Linked DNA regions of Homo sapiens. The protein of the gene in region 1 interacts with the protein of each later gene in a pairwise test. Each region holds a gene or a part of one and is shown in the gene's direction. Other genes may lie near its edges. The genes, in order: CDYL and H3C10.

Region 1 (3,830 bases):
TAACCTCAAATAGAATTTTATGAAAATTTAAACAAGTACATATGAGCATATTTCAGAGGGAGAGAATCAAGAGCTTTCATCTGATTCTCAGAGGGATATAGGACCCAAAGCAAGTATTAAAAACTGCATCGAGACCTTTGAACTAAGACTTATCTGTGGCTGCCCTCCACGGACCACTTTGACATTATTTTTGTTGAACTGTCCTCTGCCACAAATTACAGTAAAACCATATTAAAACCTCACTGATTGGGTTTAGAAGTTGTATGCTATTTCTAGTCTTTAAGTGGCTAATTTTGCAGCTATGCATACATGATGTCTAAAGATAGTCAGTATTTAATGGCACTTCTGACAATGTAAAGATTTTACATTCCTTGAACCCTGGTGCATTCCTGAACTCACATGCTACTGCTTTCTTATTGCCCATGAAAAAATCCCTCATCAAATAGAACATTATTATTTTATACAACCTTTCTTTAGATTCACCTCTGACTTCATAGTTTCTTCAATCAGATCGTCCATCTTCTATCTCAGAACTTCCTTCTGGGATTTTTTTTTTTCTTAAGTGTATCCTTTAGAGATTTCTTTAGTGAGGGACTATGGATGGAAAAGTTTCTAGGTTTTTTTTTTTTAATTATTATTATCTGGACATGTCTTTATTTTGCCATCATTTTTTGAAAGAGAATAGTATTTCAAATAAAACCAGTTAATTGGTTAATTTCTTTCAGCTCCTTCTGAAGATGGTGCTCCATTGTCTTCTGCCTTGCCTTTGCACTATTCTTGAGACTTTTTTTTTTTTTTTTGAGGTGGCGTTTCACTCTTGTCGCCCAGGCTGGAGTGCAGTGGCATGATCTTGGCTTACTGTAGCCTCTGCCTCACTGGTTCAAGTGATTCTCCTGCCTCAGCCTTTCAAGTAGCTGGGATTATGGGCATGCACCACCATGCCTGGCTATTTTTTGTATTTTTAGTAGAGATGGGGTTTCACCATGTTGGTCAGGCTAGTCTCGAACTCCTGACATCAAGTGATCCACCCGCCTCAGCCTCCCAGAGTGCTTGGATTACAGGTGTGAGCCACACTGCACCTGGCCAAGACTGTTGTCAGCATAGGTGCAGTCACTTTATAGGAGATCTGTCTTCTGTCTCTGGTTGTTCTTGAGATCATCTCTTTGACTTTGGTTTCCTCTTGTTTAATACGACAATGTATTTTGTGTGATTTTTTATTAGTTAGGTGGGTATATGTTGTGCTGCTTTTTGGATTTGTGCCTCATCAGCTCGAAAATGGATTTGGCCAGTTTGTCTTCAAATACTCCTTCTCTGTACTCGTCAGGAATTCCAAGTAGACATCTATCAGATCATTTCATTCTCTCTTCTTTGTCTTTTACCTTTTCATTTCCATCTCCTTGTTTGTGTTTTGTTTTCTTTTTATGTGCTGCATTTTAGCTATTTCCTTGGATCTAAACTATAGTTCACTAATGAGCTGTGTTTAATCTGCTGTTTTATTCAACCATTGAGTTTTAATTTTCAATAATTACATTTTTTACTTCGAAATATTCTGGGGAGTTTTTACCTAATCTGCAATTCGTTTTTTAAGTCTTTGGTGTTTGTCCATTTTATGATTTAGTCATTATTTTGGGTTGGGGGCAGTTACTGAGGCAGCTGGGATATTTTCCTTGTTTCCTACAATTGCTATATGGTATCACTGTTAATGAGAGTTATATTTTATTAAAGATCTAGTTAATTTGTAATGAGAGGGCCCTTTGGAGTCATGTTTGCTTTATTGCCAGAATCTGAAGAAACCTTCTTGATTTGGAATTTGTGACATGAGCAGGGATTGAGGCTTTGAACCAACACTTGAGATTTACCTGATGATATTGAAAATGCAAAACAGTAGTTTTCAAGAGGACTGTTTATGAAAATGGATTATAATAGTTATAACGCAATTGCTTCTGAAGCAAAATGTTCAATGTCTTTGTTCGGCATGCCTTGATATATAGTCTTGTACCACATAATGATACTTTGGTCTTACGATGGTGGTCCCGTAAGATTATAATACCACATTTTTACTGTACCTTTTCTATGTTTAGATACACAAGTTGATATGGTTTGGCTGTGTCCTCACCCAGATCTCATTTGGAATTGTAGCTCCCATAATTCCCACGTACCATGGGAGGGACCCTGTGGGAGGTAGTTGAATCGTGGGGTGGATCTTTCCCTTGCTGTTCTCCTGATAGTGAGTCTCATGAGATCTCATGGTTTGATAAAAAGGAGTTCCCCTGCACAAGCTCTCTTGCCTGCCACCATGTAACGTGTGACCTTGCTCCTCATTCACCTTCCTCCATGATTGTGAGGCCCCCCCAGCCATGTGGAACTGAGTTAATTAAACTCGTTTCCTTTATAAATTACCCGGTCTCGGGTATGTCTTTATTAGCAATGTGAGAATGGACTAATACACAAGTCCTCACTATTGTGTTAAAATTGCCTACAGTGTTCAGTACAGTAACATCTGTACAGGTCTGTAGCCTGGAAGCAATAGGCTCTACCATACAGCCTAGGTGTGTAGTAGGCTACAACATTGATGTTTGTGTAAGTTCACTCTGTGAGGTTCGCACAGCAGTGAAATTGCCTAACAACGCATTTCTGAGAACATATCACTGTAGTTAAGCAACGTGTGACCGTATAGTATACTTTCTTTTTTGTGGAGAGGTTAGCTTCAATATATCTAGAGAATGTCTTTTATTTACTTTTTGTCTTATTTCCATTTGTAGTAGGCTCTCTGCTATGTGAAGTTTTCTTTGTTGGTAGCTTCCTAGTGTTTGTTGTTAAAACCCAACAATGTTGACTGCACATCATGAATGTTCTTTGGTTAAAATGTATCCGTTTTTCACTTGTACCCATTTTTCATTAGTAGTTTACTGTTTAGGAATTCAAGGCATCACATAGTTGCACACAGAAGCTTTTCTTATTTTATTAATAGCATGTAACTAATGTGGATATCCCAGCTCTTTAGTGTATCTCAGAACCAGGACAAAAAAAGTCATCTTAGTTTGCAAAAAGATGCACCACCCCATGCACACTGGACAACAGCTCTGGGTCTCTCTTGGAGACTGTTGACATTTCCTTTAGGCATTATGTACTTGGACTTGACTGGCACCTTTAGCATGTTAGAAACAGGTTATTTGGTAAAGGAAAAGGCTCTGCCAGAGGCAGGTGAATTGACGTTAATAAGTTTGTTCATGAAGTTCGCTGAAGAGGGTAGCTGGTGATGGCACTCCAAGTCTTGAGGTGACAGGCTCCGTGGGGCCAGTCCTGCGCCCCTTAGAGCAAGTGAAGGGCATGCTTATGAAAGAAAAGGCATATGTTGCAAAGAGCTATCAAGAAGAGTTTTTAAAAAGTGTTGCTATGTAAGTGTAAGCGAAAAAATTAAGTCTACTTTTATGGTAAACTTAAACATAAATTTTATGGTCATTTCCACCCAAGTTCTCCAGACGGCAGAGGAGTCAGCAGGAATTCTCCTAAGGAGGTGGAGGTGGGAGGGAGGAGGAAATGGCCTTTGCAAGCCTGACCTGTTGTTTGAAATCTCAAGTTACCTTACATGTTTTATGATATTAACCATGTAGTCCATACAATTTTTGGGATTCAATATGAAATATTTTAAACATATTTACCAAGGAGCTCTTCTCCAGAGATCCTTGATTTAGGCTGATGTTTCAGGAAGCTGAGCTGTGGATTAGTGGCCCTGTGTGCCCTTGGTCTCTTGCTGTGTGTGTGTACTCTGGCTTCAGAAGCAGAGACGGACTGTGTTACCTTCCATAATGATGCCGGGTAAAGGAGGC
Region 2 (2,444 bases), about 23 Mb from region 1:
TTTGCAGCAACTCAATCCCAAAGGAACCAAAGGCTCTTTTCAGAGCCACCTACAATTTTGTGGAAGAACTGAGCACTATGTTTAATGTAATTTCTCGTCTTTGCCTACTTCTAAACCACTCCAAAGGTTACGTAGATCAGTCTTCGGTGTCTTGGTTAGGTAGTGACAATCTCGTTAGCTTTATAAAAAGCCTGGATAACATTAAAAGTATTAAACACGCCTTCATCTTAAGCTTAGTGGAAGAAAATTTAGTTTTTCCTAAGCTGGCATTATCCAAGTATGTTGAATTCTGTATGGTTCACCGTCGGGTTTTACTTTTAGTCTGTTGAAGCAAACATGTCTGCTTTGGGGCCAGATGTTTTCTGGGTCTTGGTAAATAACAAACCGGGCATTCGACGTTCAATCCAAATCTAGATCAACGACTTGGATTCTTCATTTCTGAGAAATATCTCTCGAATCTGTATAATTAATTGCATTTGAACATTAATGATTGAGTTGAGAATAATTATTAGACTAATTAGAACAGTTACTTATGGTGCCAGGTAGTTCTCTTTGAAGCATTTTCTGAAAATTCATTGAAATTAAAATTTCCCGAGCTTTCCCACCCCCAGCCACACAAATTGATTTCTTAGTACAGAGATGACTTAATTTGTTTCAGCATGGTAAATTCCACTTTTAAAATATCTGACTTGATGTTTTTAATCTGAATCAGATCTGGATGTACGAATGGAATAGATTCTTAAAAGAAAATGAATTACATTTCTAGAGTATTGGAAAAATAAGCTGCAATGGAATTACTTTAATCTAAAAGTGAAAAGTTCACATAAAGTTGTTTCTTTGACATTTTTTGGCCTTGAATTTCTCACATGCGAACCAGCTTTTCTTGGTTATAAAAATAGAAGTTTTTTAAATTTAAGTGGTCAAAAGATAGAAAATTGAGGGGACAGGTGTATAAGGCTGTCCTGTCCAGTATTGCAGCCACTAGCCAATTGTGGATAGTGATCATTGGAAATTCCATAGCATGAATTTTATATAAAATACACATTGCATTTGGAAAAGTCAGTGCCAAAAAGTGTAAAATACCTAACAATTTTAATTTCGATAACATTGAAATATGTTGGCTATATTGGATTAAGCAAAATATTAAAAATTAATTTTTCCTTGTTTTGTTACAATGTTCTCCTAGATAAGTGTAAATTACTTATATTGCTCTCATTTCCACTGGAAATCGCTAGTATAGTGAACAACTGTATAGCGAAAATAGAAAATAAAATATGGAGACCATGAACTGCTAAGTCTGTCAGAGGAATAGGTGAACAACAAAAATTTGAGTCCTTCGCCAATCCGGTTACTGTTGGGTAGGCCTTCAGCATACTTTTGTCCAATCAGCTTCAGACTCTCACTATAAATAAGCGGCTAGCTTTCTCTTTCTCCTGAAGTGAATCTAGCTCTGAAGGCATGGCGCGTACGAAGCAGACTGCTCGCAAGTCCACCGGCGGCAAGGCTCCGCGCAAGCAGCTGGCCACCAAGGCGGCTCGGAAGAGCGCTCCGGCCACCGGCGGTGTCAAGAAGCCCCATCGCTATCGGCCTGGTACAGTGGCTCTCCGCGAGATTCGCCGCTACCAGAAGTCCACCGAGCTGCTGATCAGAAAGCTGCCTTTTCAGCGTCTGGTGCGTGAGATCGCGCAGGACTTCAAGACCGACTTGCGCTTCCAGAGCTCCGCGGTGATGGCGCTGCAAGAGGCATGCGAGGCCTACCTGGTGGGGCTCTTTGAGGACACCAACCTGTGCGCCATCCACGCCAAGCGGGTGACTATCATGCCCAAGGACATCCAGCTCGCACGTCGTATCCGCGGCGAGAGGGCTTGAGTCTCAAGGACTCACTGATTACATACCCAAAGGCTCTTTTCAGAGCCACCCACATGCGCGCTGAAAAGATCTGTTTCTCTCAGGAATTCTTCCTGGTACTTGTTTTGCCTGTAGTAGATAGGGCCCATTTCCAGACGTTATACAATCTGTTTCGTAAGACTCAGCCTATCCCTTTTTGAATGCTAATTTTGGGAGTCTTAACATCTAATAATGTCCGGCATTTTTCCGTAAGCATTGAGTGTAGCCAAAAGTTCCTTCGTGTATTGCTCTCCCATCTCCGCAGCCCGGTTTTGACCGGATGGTGCTTCTAATTTTCTGCTAACCTGTACTGTGGTGTGTGTATATTTCTTGCCAACACGCCAGAAATAAAACTAAGGTTGTACTGAAGTTGGAAAAATTCAGGTTAATGTAGCTCATGCTGGCTAAAGTGAAACGTTCTCTCCCCGCCCCCCGTTCCTAAGCAGTGTTAAGTTTTCTTTGAATTTTTTCAAGCCGGATTTTGGGCCTGCTTAAACCACTTAAATGTAGTTAATGACAGATGGTTTGAGGTTTAAAAGTCTTCTGGAGAAAGCCCG

What was found.
Region 2: the proteins of CDYL (region 1) and H3C10 interact in binary tests that used the Homo sapiens proteins (3 or more experiments, as listed by UniProt).

Annotation. Positions count from the first base shown.
Region 1 is NC_000006.12:4,782,634-4,786,463, forward strand, and holds part of CDYL (chromodomain Y-like protein), read left to right. Parts: intron 1-3,830.
Region 2 is NC_000006.12:27,808,616-27,811,059, forward strand, and holds H3C10 (histone H3.1), read left to right. Parts: upstream 1-1,435; 5' UTR 1,436-1,458; coding exon 1,459-1,869; 3' UTR 1,870-1,921; downstream 1,922-2,444. UniProt on the Homo sapiens protein: Core component of nucleosome. Nucleosomes wrap and compact DNA into chromatin, limiting DNA accessibility to the cellular machineries which require DNA as a template.